2 separate regions of the Homo sapiens genome follow, and region 2 is linked to region 1. The links come from fine-mapping of genetic effects on gene expression. A gene starts in region 1. The other region holds a variant in brackets. All regions are shown on one strand. Distances are from middle to middle.

What was found.
Region 2: its variant is fine-mapped to the expression of MAF1 in thyroid (GTEx, PIP 0.96).

Annotation. Positions count from the first base shown.
Region 1 is chr8:144,101,438-144,110,401 of GRCh38, reverse strand. It overlaps MAF1 (MAF1 negative regulator of RNA polymerase III), which reads right to left and starts at 5,941. Exons shown (of 8, transcript NM_032272.5): 1 at 5,544-5,941; 2 at 4,636-4,762; 3 at 4,405-4,533; 4 at 4,161-4,326; 5 at 3,938-4,059; 6 at 3,728-3,847; 7 at 3,439-3,567; 8 at 2,791-3,314. The coding sequence starts at 4,718. The coding sequence ends at 3,293. SHARPIN (SHANK associated RH domain interactor) reads left to right here and starts at 6,629. Exons shown (of 9, transcript NM_030974.4): 1 at 6,629-6,849; 2 at 7,177-7,351. The coding sequence starts at 6,649. It overlaps WDR97 (WD repeat domain 97), which reads right to left and starts at 2,663. Exons shown (of 24, transcript NM_001316309.2): 1 at 2,540-2,663; 2 at 2,207-2,343; 3 at 1,458-2,086; 4 at 1,232-1,353; 5 at 368-1,067; 6 at 146-288; 7 at 1-61. The coding sequence starts at 2,651. RefSeq lists enhancers at 1,190-1,720, 5,342-5,636, 6,388-6,437 and silencers at 5,498-5,737, 6,498-6,777, 6,788-6,887.
Region 2 is chr8:144,177,902-144,188,558 of GRCh38, reverse strand. MROH1 (maestro heat like repeat family member 1) reads right to left here. Exons shown (of 44, transcript NM_032450.3): 5 at 8,973-9,104; 6 at 8,219-8,381; 7 at 8,036-8,134. Among named protein-coding and RNA genes, the nearest start is that of MROH1, 35 kb to the right of the region's middle. RefSeq lists silencers at 3,231-3,280, 6,322-6,494 and enhancers at 3,626-4,169, 7,300-8,017, 9,557-10,370. The variant C/T (reference allele first, on the strand shown) is at 4,853.

The sequences.
Region 1 (8,964 bases):
AGGCTCAGGCTCTCTTCGGCATAGGGGAAGACGCGCCACATCTTCACCGTCAGGTCCCCACCTGTGGGCAGCGGAATCTGGCTGGGCCTTGTCGGAGGGGAGGGGGCTCTGTGGCGGCCTGGCCTTTGGCAGGGGAGCTACTGACCCGAAGACACAATGCTGTTCCAGGTGGATGCGATGGCGACAACCGGGCCCGGGCTGTGCGCCTCCGTTTGGAAGACAGTCTTCGACGAGAGCCACTCCAGCACCGACAGCGTGCCGTCCGTGTGCCCCACCACTGGCAGGTACCTGCGAGTGGGAAGAGCCTGTTGGCGCGGACCCTGCCGCTCCTTCCGCCCGCCAGACCCTCGCCGGCTCCCGCACCCACCGGTTCTTGTTCTTCCAGGCGCAGGCCACAGAGCTGCAGCGCAACTCGCCCCAGTGCTGGCGCACGATCTCCCAGGAGGAGAAGGCGCCTTCGAGATCCGTGAGGTGGCTGTACAGGTGCAGACAGCAAGGCTGCGGCGCAGGGGGCGGCGGCGGGCACACGCGGTGCAGCACGCTCATGGGGCAGCGCGCCGCGTTGGCGCGGACCAGGTGCCCAGCCCTGGTCAGCAGCCACAGCGCCTCGCGCGGCAGGCAGTAGGCCACGGCTGCCGCGCAGTCCTCCGGCTCCAGCAGCAGTGAGCTCACTATGCGCCCGGTGGCCGCCGACAGGAGGTAGACCGAGCCGTCGGCGCACGCGCACACGAGGCGCGTAGGCAGCGACTGGTGCGCAGGCGCGGGCAACGCGGGCGCCACCTGCACGTGGAGCACCTTGGCGGGCAGTTGCGCCAACGGCGAGTAGAGCTCGCGTACGCGCCACAGCTGCATGCTGCTCGCGCACAGGGACAGCACCGGCCAGCCCGGGCGCACCGGCGCCAGCAGACGGCCCACGCGCCGGGACAGCTTGTCCTGGCCCCAGAAGCCCAGCGCTACCTCGCCCACCTGCGCCGCCGCCTGCAGGTCCCAGGTGCGTAGCGTCCCGTCCTGCGAGGCCGACAACACCAGGGTCGTGTTCGGGAGCACAGTCATAGCCGTCACCGGGCCTGTGGGAGGGGTGCAGGTCACTCGGCCGACTGAAGGCAGGGGAGCCTTCAGCCTGTGTTGCAGTCAGCGCAGCAAGGCCTGGCCGGAGCTGCGGAGATGCTGGACAGCCTAGAGCGGCTGGAGGCAAAGGGCCGAGGCTCGGGGTGCAGAGAACTCAGAGCACCTGTGTGGCCCACGAACACCATCCGGATCTGCCAGTCAGCCTCCCACACCTTCACGGTGCTGTCCCGGGAAGCTGTCACCATTGCCTCTACTTCCTCGCAGTAAGCCAGGTCCGAGATGGTGCTACAGGTGGGGAATGGGAGAATCCCAATGGACTTAACATCGCCTTGTGTGTGAGGGCCGTGTGCCCCTACATGCCTGGCCCTCCCTAGGGGGATCCCCCTCACGTTTTGTGCAAATCCCGGCGCACATCTACGAGAGTCCAGGCATGCAGATCGAAGGTGAGCACGGCCGAGCCATAGGCCGCGAAGCAGCGCAGGACGTGGTGGGGAGGAACCGGCGCCACAGCCAGACGCATGAGCCTGCCTGTTGGGCTCGGGGGCGGGTGCAGTGCTGACCCTCGCAGCACCAGGCGGCGACCACCTGAACGGAACTGCCAGAGCGCCAGGCTGCTGTTCATCTCCGCAACGAGCAGCAGCCTGAGGTCGGGAACCGGCAGGCAGCAGGTGGGCGCCCAACCCGGGGCCCTGCCCACCCCCTGCTCGCTCAGCCACAGCAGGCTGAGGTTGGGCCTCAGAATTGCCAGCCCCGCGGGGCCCCAGCCTACAAAACGGCCCACGGCACCCAGCGGGCCCAGCACGGTCACCAGCCCCGTAAGCCGGACAGGCGCCAGCAGCGTCTCCTGTGCCCAGCCGTCTTCCTTGTGCAGGTGCAGGCGGCCCGCGCCGTCCAGCACCACGAAGCGTCCACCCACCGGGTCCTGCGCCACCGAGCGCAGCCCGGCTGCCACCTCCAGGCGGCGCAGTGGTTCCAGCCCATGCGTCAGGCGCGCCGCGCGCAGCTCGGCTCTCTTCTCCTGTGGGCCGGGGTGGGCGGGCCCGCAATCAAAGGTTGGGGCTACTCCGGCCTAGGGGACCCCTAAGGGAAGGCCCAGATCCGGAAAGAGGCCAGGAGGCGCAGGACAGGCACACCGCACCTTTTCCACGACTTCGTGGAGGCTGGTGCGCAGAAGCAGCCACAGCCGGCGGGCGCGGGCGCGCGGGGTCAGGCTTTGCCACTGTTGGCTGCTGGTCAAAAAGGGCAGGACCTGCGACGGCTCCGTGAAAGTCAACTCTGCGGGCAGGAACTGGAAGTTCTGCCACCTACAGCCTCAGGTCCTCGACCCTGACGGTTATGGGGAGCCCTCCTCCAGGGGCCCTGCCCTACCAGGGACTGCCCAGGGGAGTTTTGTTCCAGGGGACGGAACCCAAGCCCGAATGAGACCCACTTCCTAGCGGGATGCCCGGAGGGCGAGGCCAGGCCCCCTCACCATTCTTTTCGGTGAGCAGCCCAGGGTCTGGGACATCATAGCCATCCGCATCATACAGGTCCGAGTCCAGAACTAGGTTGTAGCCTTCTGCCTCCCACACCTCTGCCTCCATTTCAGCAACTGCGGTCCCAGAGCCCAACAGCTCCCAGGACTTAGCGGTCACGGCCCGCAGCGGCAGTTGCTAGGATACCAGATGCCGCCGGCCACTCCCACACCGCAGGCCCCACCCCCACACCGCATCAGGTCCACACTAAGTCACAGAAACTTTTATTGGAAAGAAACGAGCTGCAGCAAAGTGACACTCAGTGCACGCGGCCAAATGGGCGAGGTGGGGGTACAGGTGGGCACCGGGGCCGGCCCAAGACCAGAGCCGGTGACTGCTGGGGCCTGCTCGTGGGGCCTCCGGCCACAGACCCTTTGGGCTGGAGTGTGCAGGCCCAGTAGAAATACAAAAATAAACTCTGCGGTCCAGCTGTCCCTGCTGTGGCAGTTCATTTGGGCAGGGCAGTCGCTCCTCCCACCAGGCCCCCTGCTGACAAGTCCGGCCACAGCATGGGCAGCAGGAGTCTGAGGGGTGAGTGGGCATCCACAGGATGGAGCCAAAGGGCTAGGCAGGTATGGCCTTGGGCAGTGCCAGGACTGTGGCAGCGCCAGGGTCTGGCCAGCAGCTGGGGAGGCCCCAGGGGCCTCTCAGGTGGACAGGTCCAGGCATTGGTTGAAGCTGGATGAAGCTGGGGCCTCGGCTCCTCCTCATCAAATACAGATCACTGGGACCCTGGGCGGAGGTTGGCACACAGTGGGCCTTCAGGAGCCACCACTTAGACCAAGTAGAGGAGGCCCCCACCCTGTTGTACCCACTCCAGGCTTCAAGGACCCGGGTCATGGCCCCCATCACACACCTGTCCTCCTCCATGGTGCTGGTCTCCTCGGCCCCACTGCCCCCGCTTCTGCTTTCTTCCTCCACCTCCTCCTCCCCCAGCTCCATGTCCAGCTCGTTGCCTGCCTCTGAGGGTGTGTAGGTGGAGCCACTGAGGGGAGGCAGGGAAACCAGTTTCAGGACCCCTACCCAGGCCTGCTGCTGGCCCCAGGGAGGATGTTCAGGGAGGGCAAAGCTGGGTGGAGATGGCACAGCTGGGGAAGTTGTATCGGCCCAACAGGGAGGTGGGGGAGGAGGCGGGGGGTGCCCACCTGATGGAACGGCAGCTAAAGAAGACGATTCGCTTGAGCCGCTTGTTGTAGAAGAAGTAGTTGAAGGACCAGAGGCTACCATCCTCCCCGAAGGGATCTGAGTCCAAGTCTGGGTTATAGCTGGGGAGTATAGGGTGACAGGTGGTGTGAGGCGCCAAGTGCCCCACAAACCTGGAGGCCTGGAGGCCATCTGCAGGGATGCCGGCCCACCTGTAGATGTCACATTCAGCCAGGCAGATCTCCTCGTCCACCGCGTTCCACAGCTGTGGTTTCAGATCCTTGAAGTCCTCCCGCACAGCTGAGAACAGACTGCAGTTGACTGCATTCACCACCTAGGGCAGGTCACAGTCAGGGTGACAGGAGCCCAGGGCTACCCAAAGTGGGGAAGGACAGTGGGGTGGCTGTGGGTCCCTTCCCTCCACCTGACCCTCACCCAGCTAAGGCTGGGCTCCCGGCTGAACTCATGGCTGCGGGCTGTGCTGAAGTCATAGTCAGGCCTGAAGGACTCATTGAGCGTGGCAATCAGGTAGAAGAGGGTCTTGCGGCTGCACTTGTCACTGAGGGGGCCCTCCTCCTCACCGCCTTGGCTTTTGCTGAGTCTGCACAGACAGAACCATCAGCTGGGCCCATCACCTCCCCTCAACCCCCAGCCCCAGGTAGGCCCCACCATGGCTCACCTGCTGGGGCTCAGTCCTGAAGTCTGGGGTGGAGAAAGTGCCTCCAGCACGTGGGGCTGGCCCTCCTGGCAGAACTGCTTGAACATGTGTTTGTCGTCTCCTGCCATCTTACATGAGTAGCTCTCAATCCTATAGGATGCAGAGAGAACCATGAAGCATGCTTCCCCCAGGTTCCACTGAAGGGCGCGGCAGTGTGACCTCCGAGATGCCAGCCCCCCCAGCCTGCCTCACCTGCCAATGATGTGGGCATCTCCAGTCTCCACAGTCAGCTGTGAGTTGATGGCTTCAAAGCTCGAGTTCTCCAATAGCTTCATGTCTTTGGGGAAGGAGCTCCGTGCTCCAGAGGGGCTAGTATTGCCTGGGGAGTGAGAGACCAGACCATGGGTATCTATCTGGCCCCTTGGGGCCCTGCCTTCAGCCCTCCTACCCACTAAGTGGAGCCGCTAGGAACAAGCTGAGTCTGGCCTCTGTCCAGGCTGCACATCAGGAGCTCCCCTCTCTGCCCGGCCAGGAGAGGTGACAGAGATCCTGTTTTACCTGAGGGTGGTAAGTCCAGGCTCCAGGTCAGCCATACCCCCTGCAGAACACGCGAGTTCTGGGACTAGACTAGACCACCGGGGACCCTGCTCACCCTGGGGCTGCTGGCTGAGATTGTTGCTCAACATTCCCATTCCCCATCTCCACGCCCACTCCAAAAGAGCTCCAGCCACCATGGGGGTAACTCTTGAGTCCGCAACGGGACGTGACTCCTGCAGTCTCCCTCAGGCTGGCTGGGCTCCTCAGCCAAGGTAAGAGGCTGCATCCCGGTTAGGAACCAGGACACCTGGGACTCCGGGCCCTGCGGTCACCTGGGCGGGCGCTCTTTCGTTTTGGCTACTTTCTGGCCCGGGGAGAGGAAAACTACAGGTTCCTCCACTCTACCCGGAAAAATTGCCTAGTTTCTCCAGACGCCTAGGAGGGCGGTCCCTCGGCCCCGCTGGGGCGCTGCAGTCACCAGGCAGCGCCCGCCTGGGCCACGTCGGGCACCAGCCAAGCCGCGGTGGAACTACAAATCCCAGGAGGCAGCGCGCCGCGCGAGGCCTGCTGGGGGCTGTGGTTCCGGGTACGCAGACGGCGCGGGACGCAGGGCGGACACCCACCTGCCTGGCTGGGTTAGATCAGGCCGCGCCGGGCCGGGTCTGGCTGGGCTGGGTCGCTCCGCGTCGGTGCCGGTGCGCAGGCGGGGGCGGGCTCCGCGCAGCGCGGGCTCTTCAAGATCGGAGGGCGGCGCCGCGGCCTCCGCTCGGGCCGCACTGTATCCGGGGGAAGAAGCTCCGCGGCGACGTCCCGTTACTCCCGGCCCTGCCGGCCCATCCGGGCTGCCACCGCGACATAGCCTCGCCCCCTTCCACAGAGCCCGCTCTCGCGACCGACCTGCCGCCGACCGCCACAGAGCGCTCCGGCGAGTCAGCGAGCCGAGCGAGCGAGCGAGCGACCTCCGCCTCCCCCGGCCGGACAACAACAAGCGTCCGCCGGGCCCGGCCCCGCGCCTCTGAATGGCCCGCTCCAGTCTCCGAGATCGAGAGCTCGAATAGCCATCGGGTGCCGTACCCGCCACTCAGTTCTGCCTTCTACGTCTACTGGTTATGGAGCCTGTCTGTCACTCTTCTCGTCGTACTAACCCGCTTACCCCCGGCGTTCATTGGCCGTGGCCTCTCTAGCTCCGCCCCCTAGGGGGGTCGACCCCGTAACCAGTGAGGCGCGGGCCAACCTAGTGCGACGTGTGGGCGTGGCGGGGGCTGGGGTCTGCGGGCGAAGGTGGCAGCCCATTGGAGGTCCCGGGAGCGAAGTCCAGCTGCCGTTAGGCGCTGGGATAGTCGCACGCTGGATGCATCTACGTCCGCCGAGCCCCTGGGGCGAAGAGGCCGCGTCCGCCTTCAGTTGTGGCCGGTGCTTCGCCCCCTGACCCTTCGCCCCCAAAGACCAGCTCTAACGTGAGCGCCTCGGCCGCCCTGCCCCAGCCTCGTACACGCCGCCAGCCTCGCCCAGCCGGTGTCCGGAGACCCTCGGGCCGTGTCCATTTGTGGGCAAAGCCAGCGGGGCAGGCTTGGCCAGAGTGCACCACTCGGCGCCGTCCCAGGCCCGACGCTCTGGGCGCGCCCGGAACCCCAGGTTCGCGGCCCGTGTTTCCGACCGGCGGAGGGGGCTCAGCGGCCCGATCCCACGGAAGCGCGCTCGGAGGGGTGGGACCCGGCCGGACCGGAGATGGCGCCGCCAGCGGGCGGGGCGGCGGCGGCGGCCTCGGACTTGGGCTCCGCCGCAGTGCTCTTGGCTGTGCACGCCGCGGTGAGGCCGCTGGGCGCCGGGCCAGACGCCGAGGCACAGCTGCGGAGGCTGCAGCTGAGCGCGGACCCTGAGCGGCCTGGGCGCTTCCGGCTGGAGCTGCTGGGCGCGGGACCTGGGGCGGTGAGTGGGGGCGGAGGGCGCGCGGTCAGTCCTCTTGGCCCGGGCAGGGCACGGAGCCCAAAGTTAGGCCCCTCCGCTTGCCACCTGGGTGCCCTTAAGCAGTTATGTTTCTTTGCTTCTGTTTTCTCGTCCGTGAAATGGGGGTGACGCTCGGACCTACTGGGACCTACCTGGACCTACTTTACAGGGCTATTGTGAGGATTTGATGATAGGCGTACAGGGCTTAGGACCGTGTAAATGGTCTATAAATGTTACCTTGTATTTCTTTGCTCCTCGTGCGATGTAGGGCGGGGGGACGCCCTGAGCCTGGACTCTCCCTCTTCTCAGGTTAATTTGGAGTGGCCCCTGGAGTCAGTTTCCTACACCATCCGAGGCCCCACCCAGCACGAGCTACAGCCTCCACCAGGAGGGCCTGGAACCCTCAGCCTGCACTTCCTCAACCCTCAGGAAGCTCAGCGGTGGGCAGTCCTAGTCCGAGGTGCCACCGTGGAAGGACAGAATGGTCAGTGCCCTGTAATGGATACAATTACAATTTGGAATAGCCTTGGCCCCCCAGTCCTGGTTGGGGAAGTTGGATCCACCTTCCCCACTGCTGGATGTCTGGGAAGGCTTCCAGGAGGGAGTAGGTGGAGCCTGGAGTAGCTTGGAGTACTTGGAGTGGCTGCTGGAGTCAGTCTCCTACACCATCTGAGGCCCCAGCCAGCACAAGTTGCAGCCTCCACCAGGAAGCCCTGGAACCTCAGCCTGCACTTCCTTAACCCTCAGGAAGGATGAGAGGCAAGCATGAAGAGGCAGAGCAGGCAGGGTCAGGACCTGTGTGAGAAGACATCATCCCAAGAGCAGCAGGAGAGTGACAGGAGTGGGAGAGTGACAGACTCAGATACCTCCTGCTTAAGACAGAGTTCTGCAGTGGCAAGGGTTGGTGCAGATAGGGTTGGGGAGAAGGATGTTTCTAGAGATGCTTAGAAGATGGAATTAGTGGCCGGGTGGGGTGGCTCACGCCTGTAATTCCAGCACTTTGGGAGGCCGAGGTGGGTGATCACCTGATGTCAGGAGTTTGAGACCAGCCTGGTCAGCAAGGTGAAACCCTGTCTCTACTAAAAATACAAAAATTAGCCAGGCGTGGTGGCGTGTGCCTGTAGTCCCAGCTACTTGGGGAGGCTGAGGCAGGAGAATCACTTGAACCCGGAGGCAGAGGTTGCAGTGAGCTGAGATCTTGCCACTGCACTCCAGCCTGGGTGACAGAGCAAGACTCCATCTCAAAAAAAAAAAAAAAAGAAGATGGAATTAGCTGAGTTTCATGGCTGCTTGGGAGGTTTTTTGCAGACAAAGACTCCCTCTCTCACCCAGACTGGAGTGCAGTAGCGTGACCCTAACTCACTGGAGCCTTGAACTCCTGGTCTACGGTGATCCTCCTGCTTCAGCCTAAGTAGCTGTTATTGGCATGAGCCACTGCCCCTGGCTCACATGGCTGCTTAAATGGAAGAGTTAGCAGTTGAGACTGAGAAACATGAAGGACTAGGTAGTATGGGGCTCCCAGATAGAGGGCAGCCCACAAACGAGATAAGCAGAGCTGCCAGAGGGGTAGGAAGACAGCCAGACAGTGATGTAAGAGAGACTCAAGCAACTCAGGGTTTATAAAAGGAGCTAAGCTCTCTTTAGTCATTCACCAAGCATATGTATTCAGCAGCTGCCCTGTCCCAGGTACTCCTTTGGCATGAACAAAACCTCCCATCCCCATCCTATTGGAGCTTGCATTTTTAGAGGGGAGGAGGCAGACATATAAAATAAGTACAGGGCTGGGCAACATACAAAAAATTTAAAAATTAGCTGAGTGGGCCGGGCACGGTGGCTCACACCTGTAATCACAGCACTTTGGGAGGCCGATGTGGGCAGATCATGAGGTTAAGAGATCGAGACCATCCTGGCTAACACGGTGAAACCCTGACTACTAAAAAAAAAAAAAAAAAAAAAAAATTAGCTGGGTGTGGTGGTGGGGACCTATAGTCCCAGCTACTCGGGAGGCTGAGGCAGGAGAAGGGCGTGAACCCAGGAGGTGGAGCTTGCAGTGAGCCGAGATTGCACCACTGCACTCCAGCCTGGGCAACAGAGCGA
Region 2 (10,657 bases), 77 kb before region 1:
GGAGGCAGAGGTTGCAGTGAGCTGAGATCACGCCATGCACTCCAGCCTGGGCGACAGTGTGAGATTGTCTCAAAAAAAAAAAAAAAAAAAAAAAAAAAAAAAAAAAAAATTGGGCAGTGGTAGCACCTGACCCAGGGCTGCTGTGAGGCCCCCCTGGGCTGAAGCACATGTGGTGCAGAGGGCCAGGTTGGGGTGTGAGTGCCAGTTCCCACTGGCCTTAGGCCCCATCCACTGCTGCTCCCAGGGCCATGGGTGAGCCTTTCCACTTCTTATAAAGTAGAGAAAAGTATTTATAGTATCTTCTTTGGTAATTCTTTTTCTTGGTGATGTTCATCTGCAGTTCTGTACATTTTTTCAGATCTTCTGATGAACAAATTCCTTTAATTTGTCATGTCAAACTTGTTAATATTTTCCTTTGTGATTTATACTTTTTTGTATCTTAAGAAATCACTTTAAACCCAGCCTGTAAGAATCAAAGGGTGCAGGTGCTCCCGACAGTCCTGCGAGGCTCGCCGGTCCCTGGCTTTCCATGCTTGGGCAACTGTTTCACACCCTTTTCTCGCCACAAACCCCTCCTCACAATGGGCTGACAACCTCATGGAAGAGGACCCTGAGACCACCGGAACCCGCACCTATGCTCTGTGCTTCCTACACCCCCACCTGGCTCCCGTGTAGCCATCGGTCCCCATAAAGCCTCCCTCTGACACAGACCCTGCAGCAACCCTGCAAGAGCAAAGGCCCTGAGAAGCGCCACCCAGACAAAAAATCTCTACCTGTACCCCTCGTCCCCTTCATGGGGCCACTGGCCACCTTCTAGCACTGCCTTCAGGGTCACCAGCACCTCCAGGCGCAAACCCAATGGTTGACTCAGGCCCTGCGGGACTCTCATCAGAAGCTCACCAGAATCTGTGATGATCGATTCACAGAGGAGCTGGCACCTCTGAGTCTAGTACACAGGAATGCAGATAAGCTTCAGCTGCTGATCCTCCAACAGCATCCTGCTAAATTCTTGTCACCTCTAATAATTTGTGGGAATGTGTTGGGATTTTATATAAACAATTTTATTAAGTGAAGACCAAAAACCTTTGGTTTCTTCCATTCTTTGTCTGTGTGGGTGATTGTAGGATTTTGGTTTTTTTTCTTTTTTTTAAGACAGGGTCTCGGTCTGTCACTCAGGCTGGAGTGTAGTGACACCAACTTAGCTCACTGCAGCCTCGACCTCCTGGGCTCAAGTGATCCTCCCACCTCAGCCTCTCAAGTAGCTAGGACTACAGGTGCGTGACACTGTACCTGGCTAATTTTATATTTTTTTAGAAACAGAGGTCTCACTATGATGCCCAGATTGGTGTCAAACTCCTGGGTTCAAGCGATCCAACCACCTCGGCCTCCCAAAGTGCTGGGATTACAGGCGTAGGCCACCATGCCCGGCCTGAGTTTTGTTTTGTTTTGTTTTTTTTTTTTTGGAGACAGTCTCACTCTGTCACTGAGGCTGGAATGCAGTGGCGTGATCTTGGCTCACTGCAACCTCTGACTCCCAGGTTCAAGCAATTCTCCTGCCTCAGCCTCCTGAGTAGCTGGGACTATAGGCACACACTGCCACACCCGGCTAATTTAATTTTTTGTATTTTAGTTGAGACGGGGTTTCACCGTGTTGCCCAGGCTGGTCTCAAACTCCTGAGCTCAGGCAATCCGCCTGCCTCAGCCTCCCAAAGTGCTAGGATTATAGGCGTGAGCCACCGCGCCCGGCCTAGCCTGAGTTTTTAATAAGAATAAACAAGGGCAGTGGCCATGTGGTTTCCCTTCTTATGTCGATCAGTGTGAGGGCCCACCCTCCCAATGTGGAGCTGGCCTCTCACTCCTGGGGTGACCCCCCCGTCAGGACAGAGCCAGCCCCTATGCCAGGCAATATGGATTTTGTTCCTAGGGTCAGCGATCACAGCGGGGTATGTGAGGTGATAGGAATCTGCTTCGTTCCAAGTTTTGGGATATCAAGGGTCACTGTATCCCAGCAAAGGCACCTGAAACCATCTCTGACTTGGGTTCAGCAGCAGGGGCATGGACGGGGAGGGCAGACCCTGAGTGAGGCTGGTCCCTGGATCTCTTTTGTGGTGATGCTCAGGTCACAAAAATAATTTGGGGCCGGGCGCAGTGGCTCATGCCTGTAATCCCAGCACTTTGGGAGGCCGAGGTGGACAGATCACCTGAGGTCAGGAGTTCGAGACCAGCCTGGCCAACATGGGGAAACCCCGTCTCTACTAAAAATACAAAAATTAGCTGGGTGTGGTGGCGGGCACCTCTGGTCGCAGCTACTCTGGGAGCTGAGGTGGGAGGATCACTTCAGCCTGGGAGGCAAGAGGTTGCAGTGAGCCAAGATCACACCACTGCACTCCAGCCTGGGTGACAGAGTGAGACCCTGTCTCCAAAAAAAAAAAAAAAAATTGGAAACTGTCCTTTTTGCTTCATTTCCCCGGGGTGACACAGCCCTGAGGACTGGGAGAGAGCCCACTGCGGAGCCCACGGAGCACTGCCTGGGAAGTGGCACTCTCCTGGAGCACTCGCTGCTGGGCTTTCAGAGGTGGCTGCACTGGGCACGCGGTCCCCTCGGCGGCCCTTGCTGGTCCCTTGTGGTCCCCACGTCGCCCCTCGCCGCCCCCCCGCCACCCCTCACCATCCCCCCACGGTCCCTGCACTGCCCCTCACCGCCCCCCCGTGGTTCCCACACTGCCCCTCACGTCCCCTCGAGGTCCCTGCGCCGCCCCTCCCCCTCCCCCCACGGTCCCCGCACTGCCCCTCACGTCCCCTCGAGGTCCCCGCGCCGCCCCTCACCGTCCCCCCGCCGCCCCTCCCCCTCCCCCCACGGTCCCCGCACTGCCCCTCACGTCCCCTCGAGGTCCCTGCGCCGCCCCTCACCGTCCCCCCCCCCGGCCCTCACCGCCCCCCGCGGTCCCCGCACTGCCTCTCACATCCCCTCAAGGCCCCTGCGCCGCCCCTCACCGCCCCTCTCACGGTCCCCATGCCACCCCTCACATCTCCCCGCGGTCCCCGCGCCACCCCTCGCTGTCCTCACATCTATTCACCTCCTGTTTACCACTTGGCTTGTTTCTCTCTTTTCTCTTGATGAGGCAGCAGCTTAAGTATTTAATTCACTTATTTCAAAGAACTAGGTATAAAACATAACGTTTTGCCAACTGCTTATTTTCTAAAGCATTAGTTTCTGTGTTTTCTGCCTTGCTCAGGTCTGGGTAGGTGAGACCACAGTAACGACAAAACTTGCAACGGCCTGACACATACAGTGAGATGGGAGGGCTCAGCTCCCACTTCCCACCCTGCAGAAACCACAGAGGCCAGGGAGGGTCAGGCGGCACAGCACGAGGATTCCAGTGGAACCGGCAGGCTGCCTGCAGGAGCGACACACTGCACAGAAATCCTGGGACTGCAACACTGCAGTGGTTTCCCTAAAGCTACAAGACACTTCCCTCCCCGACAGAGAAAAGGGCAAGAGGCTGCCTGCCTCCCCCTCCTCCTCAGCTCCTTTCTTGCTGGCGCGGGGATCCCCTGCACACCTGTCACTCACCAGCAGCACCCAGGGCCTCCACACCCTCTCCAGTGCAGGGGGTGGGGACTCCTGCTCTGCCCCAGCCCCATAGCGTCCTTCTGCCCTGGGTGGAGGTGACAGGGCTCCAGGGAACAGGTCTGGCACTGGCTGTGAAAGTCAGCAGCTCCTGGCGGCCCCTCCACAGCATCTCCCTTTGATGATGCCGGTGAGCCTGGGCCTCTTCTCACCTCTTCTGGACTCGTGCTCTGTAGCTGGGGGTGCTCGGCCAGCTCACCTGACGCCTGCCCCGCACCCCCTTCTCTCTGCCAGCTCAGGGCTGCCCTCCGGGTTGTCCCCAGACCCCTGTCCAGCTGGTGCACTCTCTTCAGTGTCTGCAACCGGCTGCCACACCCACCTCCTTACTCTTTAATGGAAATGGTTACAGTTTTGTTTCTAGACTGTATTTGGTTCTCTTTTCACACTGGCTCTGTCCTTGTAGGACCCTGTCCTTTCTCCCTTTCGCCTCTTTACCTTGCTATTTTTATCCTGTATCTCATCAATCCAAATTATGTGACTTTCTGCTCTAATGCTCCTTTTTTTGTGTGCTGACGTGTGTGCTTTGTGACTGTAACTGATATTGCTGGTCCTGGGTCCGTGGAGAGCTGCTGGCCCCACACCAGAGCCGAGACCCTGCGCTCCAGGGAAGCGCTGCTTCCCACGGCCACACCCCCCGGCCAGAGCCACTGCCATGCAGCCTGACTGGGACGCAAACATTCAGTAGGACACTGGTCACCCCACCCAGGACACTTCAGCCCGGCCCATTTACACGGCTAACGTCTCAGCTTAAGGGCTTCCCAGTCCAACACAAAGAACAACTTTGAACCCTACAACTACATCAGGACAGACCATGGTTACAAATTCTCAGGAGAGAGGATTTAAAAGAAATTCTAAAAGAAAACAGACTACCTCCCAGGGTGCACAGTGGAAGGTTCCTCATCAGTCACTTTTTGCTGAGGAGGGGCCTTGAAGGGTCTGGTACAGGTGGGCTCTGACCCAGTGCAAAGAAAGGCCTTGTCTGGCCAGGCGCGGTGGTCCATGCCTGTAATCCCAGCACTTTGGGAGGCCGAGGCGGGCGGATCACGAGGTCAGGAGATCCAGACCATCCTGGCTAACATGGTGAAACCCCGTCTCCACTAAAAATACAAAAAATTAGCCAGGCGTGGTGGTGGGCGCCTGTAGTCCCAGCTACTCGGAGAGGCTGAGGCAGGCGAATGGCGTGAACCTGGGAGGCAGAGCTTGCAGTGAGCCGAGATCGCG[C/T]CACTGCACTCCAGCCTGGGCAACAGAGCGAGACTCCATCTCAAAAAAAAAGAAAAAAGAAAAAAGAAGAAGAAAGGCCTTGTCTCCCATGTGAAATCAAGGCAGGCAGGTGCCCAGGGGCCACTGGAGAGCTCTAACCTCTCACCTCCCCTCTTGACCTCCGTGGGCCTAGGTTTCTCCTTCTGATTGATCAGAAGGATGCTGGTCAACTCATCAGCATTCCAGGTATTCGGCAGTGGGAAGTTTTTTCAGAATAACAGACCACCATAATGCCACAAGCAGAAGCCCACCCCTGTTGTGTTATTAGGATTTTTTTTTTTTTTTTTGAGACAGAGTCTTGCTCTGTCACCCAGGCTGGAGTTCAGTAGCTTGATCTTGGTTCACTGCAGCCTCGACTTCCCAGGGTCAAGCAATCCTCCTGCCTCAGCCTTCCAAGGAGCTGGAATACAGGCATGTGCTACCATACCTGGCAAATTTTTAAAAATATTTTTTCTAACGATGGGGTCTCACCATGCTGCCCAGCCTGGTTTCGAATTCCTGGGCTCAAGTGATCCTCCCATTTTGGCCTCCCAAAGTACTGGGATTACAGGCGTAAGCTACCATGCCCAGCTAGTTTTGATTTGTTTGTTTTGAGACAGAGTCTCACTCTGTCACCCGGGCTGGAGTACAGTGGTGCAATCTTGGCTCACTGCAGCCTCCGCCTCCGAGGTTCAAGCAATCCTCCTGTCTCATCCACAGTATCAGGGATTACAGACATGCGCCACCACACCCGGCTAATTTTTTTGTATTTTTAGTAGAGACGGGGTTTTGCCATGTTGGCCAGACTGGTCTTGAACTCCTGACCTCAAGTGATCAGCCCGCTTCGGCTTTCCAAAGTGCTGGGATTACAGGCATGAGCCACCGCACCCGGCCACTAGGGCATGCCTTTGCGTCATCTCTTGACCTCCCATCTCTGTCCATTCTTTCTAGGGTGCCTCTGATTGGAATGCTGGCTTCAGGGTTCAGCCTGCTAGTTCATTCTTCTCTTTCTCTCCTACTTTCCATATTTTTGCCTTTTTCCTCTATTTTCTGGAAATTTCCACAACTTTCTCTTCCAATTCTTCTATTATTTTTCCCATTTCTATTATGGCATCTTTAATTCACAGAAGGTCAGTTTTATTCTCTCAATGTGGCTTCTCCATGGTGACACCTCTTGTCCCGTGAATGCATGATGCCCACTTATTTTCCTGAGGATATTAATCAGAGATTTTCTTTCTCTGTTATTTTCTTCTCCCTGAACCATCTACATCTCCAATTAGTGTCTGTTTCTTTTGTTGCCACCTTTCCTACTGGAGGGGTTCCTTGGCCGGGAGGAATTACTGGATGCCTGCCCTGCTGGACGGCGTGGCCAGGCCAGCCGTGCCTCCACCACTGGGAGTCTTCCCTGAGGCTCCTCGCCTCCTGGCTGCAGTGCCCTGAGGGCACTCCTGTCCTTGGCACACTGCCTGTCCTGGCTGGACCTGCACCCTCCCGCAGTGGACGCAGGCCTGCCACCGCCCCCACCACTAGGCCTCACCCGGTTGATACGGCTTCCTCTGGCCCCAGGCTGCTCCAGCCAGCAGGACCACCAACCCCTCCAGATGCAAACAGGGAACGTTCCATTTGTGGTGGGGAGCACACGTCCCACACGAGGAGGTCCCATGGAATCTTCGCTGGCTGAACCCATGTGTTTGACACATGGAGGAAAATGCCAGCATGGTAGGGCCCAGAGGAGCCGCAGGTCCCCTATGAAGGGGAAGGTAAGCAAGAGGTGTCAGAACTGCAAGTCCGTTTCTGCTTAGAGCCTCAGCAGCTGCAGGGATCAGGCCACTTCCCAGAGGAGTGGCGGGAAGGGGCGATGTGCGTGCAGCACAGAGACAGGCGCCCCAGCGGCCCCGTTCTGTCTCCGCCCTGCAGCCTGGATGGCACGTCCTGCGCCCCAGGCACCTTAGCTGAGTCCACACCCACACCCACTTCCACTCTCTGCTCCTTCACACCTGGCTCAGTATGCAGCTGCCCCCATCCTGTCACCAATCCCATTTTTAGCCAAAACTGGGTCACATGGAGTTACTATCCCTTCTACCCAAGGGGCCCTGCCCTCATCCACAGGTGAGAAAGAGCCTGTGAAGGAGTGCCCCAAAGATGAAGGCATTTATCAAAGAGCAGGGCCAGGAGAGACGGAGCGCAAGGGCTGAGGAGAGGGTGGCAGGAGCCCTGTGATCTGAACCCAAAGTCACCAGGAGCAGAGCAGGTGGGTCCAAATGCTCCAAACCAACCCTGCAGTCTACAGAGCCCAGCCCAGCCCTGTAACCACTCCCTCCATGCTTCGAAAACATGCCCTGCCCGGGCCCCACCAGGCCCCTCCCCCATCACCGGCCCCTCCCCCATCACCGGGCCCCTCCCCCATCACTGGGTCCTCCCACACCTGCTGCCTGGAACTAACGGCCCCCGGCCCCAGAGGGCTGGCTCTTTACGAGGGCTGGTCCCCTGGGCACGAGGGTCCTGTTCTCCTCCCGGCCAGCTACCAGGGCTGGCCGTCTTCCTGACATGGGACACCGGGAGCACGAGGCCGTGGGCTGTGAGGGCACTAAGGGTAGCTCAGGATCTCTAATCTCCACACCCCCTTCTAACAGAAATGCCCTCCAATCCCACCAACCACTCCCCCACTGTCAGTGGCAGGGGAAACCAAGGTCCAGGCCCATGACATGCCCGCAGTCCCCTGCCAGGCACACAGAGGGCTGTGGGCAGTGCTGCCAGGAATGGGGCTCCTGGCAGAGGGTGGGGGTGAATGAATGTGCCCCCATCCCCTGGGTCCTGGGATGCCCAGAGAGCGGACACTTTTCTAGCCTGGAGTGGGGAGGAAAACAAAAAGTCATGGCTTCGAGGAAGTCTCTTCCTACCCCCCAGGCACGTCCAGCCCTCAGTGGACCCACAATGTAAGGTGGGGGGCTCTCCAGGAGTAGAGAGAAACAAGAGACAGAGGCTGTGTCAGCCCCACATGGGCCCCCCAACCAGCCAGCAGCCTCAGCCAGGGGGCCCCTCCCTCCAACAGCCCCCCTTCCTGCAGCCTAAAGTGCCCACCTGTCCCCCCTAAAACAGGCATGCCCGGGAACAGCCCCCCACAAAGGGGCACTTGAGACAGAAGGTGACGAGGCCGCCTCTTACCGGAGCAGAAGGCCACGCGCACCGTGTCCTGCTTGGCCACGCCCAGCACGGGCAGCAGGGAGCTCAGGACGGATGGCAGGAAGGGGACTACGCCGAACGCTGTGAGAGAGGACACCGTCAAAGGCCTCCGCCAAGGCTTCCAGCGCCCCGTGCTCCTCCTGGGGCAGGCCGCGCGTCACCTACCGTTGGCCACCGAGAGGCTGGCGAGGGTGTGCAGCACGGCGCAGTGTGGCAGGGTCCCAGGGTGCAGCCTGCGCAGCAGCTCCTCCATCACCTTGCTGATGAACTGTCTTCCCACGGCCACCAGGACGCCACTCGCCGCCTGCTGCCAGTCCCAGACCAGGTCCTGAACCCAAAACACCGGCAGGTAGACCAAAAGGCAAGACCAAGACATTCTGCCCTCAGTCGCTGCCAGCCTTGGACAAGCGCACGCTGTTTTCAGCGTCCCCAGAAAGTGCAGGTCAGGGAAGGTGGCGGGCACAGCCTCCTCTGCTGAGGGGCTGCTGAGGAGACCCCACACGCAGGAGCAGCAGAGCCCTGGTGAGAGGTGAGGGGCTGCTGAGGAGACCCCACACGCAGGAGCAGCAGAGCCCTGGTGAGAGGGGGCTGCACTCAGTGCCCTGAGAGTTAGGCCCACCAGAGCCCTGCACCAACCCCAATGCCGGGCACAGCCTTTGGCCCCAGCTGCACGCACACCACGGTCCTGCGTGTGCTGAGTTCTGGCAACTTGCTCTCTGCTTCAGTTGCTGCCTCTGAAAATCACAGGGGACCACCCCCCACCCCTGCAGGGTGATGCATGAGACCGAAGGGCATCTGCCAGCCCAAGGCAGCCAAACACCACCCTATACTCTCAAGGCTGCTGGGTAGAAAGGCCAAGAAGCAGCTTCCCTTCCCAAGCTAGGCCTGAGTCTGCGAGGCCAGAGGGCCTGCTGAATACCTTCGTCTTGGTCATCTCGCTGGAGGCCAGGAGGATGATGGTGCTGGCTGTGTCCTTGTCCAGCTCACTGGCGCGACTGCTCAGGACCCTCTCCATGGCCCTCAGGACCGCTGCTCGGTATGGGTGTGCCAGCTGCGGAGAGACACCGTCCAGGTCGGTCCCAGGTGAGCCCCACACCCAGACACTCTGAGTGCCTGTCACTGTCTCTACAAGATGAAACCGCACAAATCTCTCTGCCTCAAGTGCAGGAGGGGAGGGGTACACCTGATCACTCCTCACGCCCTAAAAGCCGGCCTGCAAGCCTCACACTCACGGCCCATCTCCAGAAGGGTGGAGCGTTATCCTGCGCCAGACAACCAACATGCAGAGGGCGAGGCGGGGGGCTTCTCTCCTCCAGGGGTAGTCAGTAGGGTCTCCCAGTCACATGACACTCCCAGGACCCTTCCACCTCCTTGCCCTGCCCTCCCCTGTCAGAGGAGGAGCACACTCCTGTCCCCAGCTCAGTGGTCATGGCCTCAGTCTCTGCCGCTAGGCTAGTGCTTGTATCCAACGGCCCCTCCCCAAGGCTGCTAAGGAAAAACGCCACCCACCACACCACCTTCTGCCACGCCCCCAAGCCACCTCCACCTCCCAGGTTAACCCTCCGCAGAGTCCAACCACCTGCCTTCATCCTCCCCCTAAGCAGCTCTCCTGTCGACCACCACCTCCACTGTAAATCCAAAGAGCACACACTGTCCTTGCCTCAACTGGGGACACACCAAGGACTGGGACTGAAAGCTGGGACCCGCGGGGGCACACAGCAGAGTAGGCTACTGCCCAACCCAGGAAAGGAACCTGGGGCACCCAGCCACCCTGTGTTGACAGCCCCTCCCCAATGATGCACCCACCATGGCCCCTCCCTCCACCACCCTGAGAGCAGCCTGCACCAGGCAACATGGCCGGCACAGGGCGGCCCAGAGGCCCACAGGCTCTGTCGTCCATTCTCACATGGCTATAAAGAGGTGACCTGCAAAAACCCGAACAGGCGCGGTGGCTCACGCCTGTAATCTCAACACTTAGGGAGGCCGAGGCGGGCGGATCACCTGATGTCAGGGGTTCAAGACCAGCCTGGCCAACATGGTGAAACCCTGTCTCTACTAAAAAAAAAAAAGTACAGGCCGTGCGTGGTGGCTCACGCCTGTAATCTCAACACTTAGGGAGGCTGAGGCGGGCGGATCACCTGATGTCAGGGGTTCGAGACCAGCCTGGCCAATATGGTGAAACCCCGTCTCTACTAAAAATACAAAAATTAGCCGTGTGTGGTGGCGCACACCTGTAGTCCCAGCTACTCGGGAGGCTGAGGCAGAAGAATCGCTTGAACCCGGGAGGCAGAGGTTGCAGAGCCGAGATCGCGCCACTGCACTCCAGCCTGGGCCACGGAGCAAGACTCTGTCTCAAAAAAAAAACACAAAAAACAAAAATTACCCAGTCACAGTGGCCGGCACCTGTAATCCCAGCTACTTGGGAGGCTGAGGCAGGAGAAAAGCTTGAACCCGGGAGGTGGAGGTTGCAGTGAGCCGAGATCACACCACTCCAGCCTGGGCGACAGAGCAAGACTGTCTCAAAGAAAAAAAAAAAAAGAAGAAGAAATACCGGAGACTGGGTAACTTACAAAGAAAAAAGGTCTAATTAGCTCAAAGTTGCAG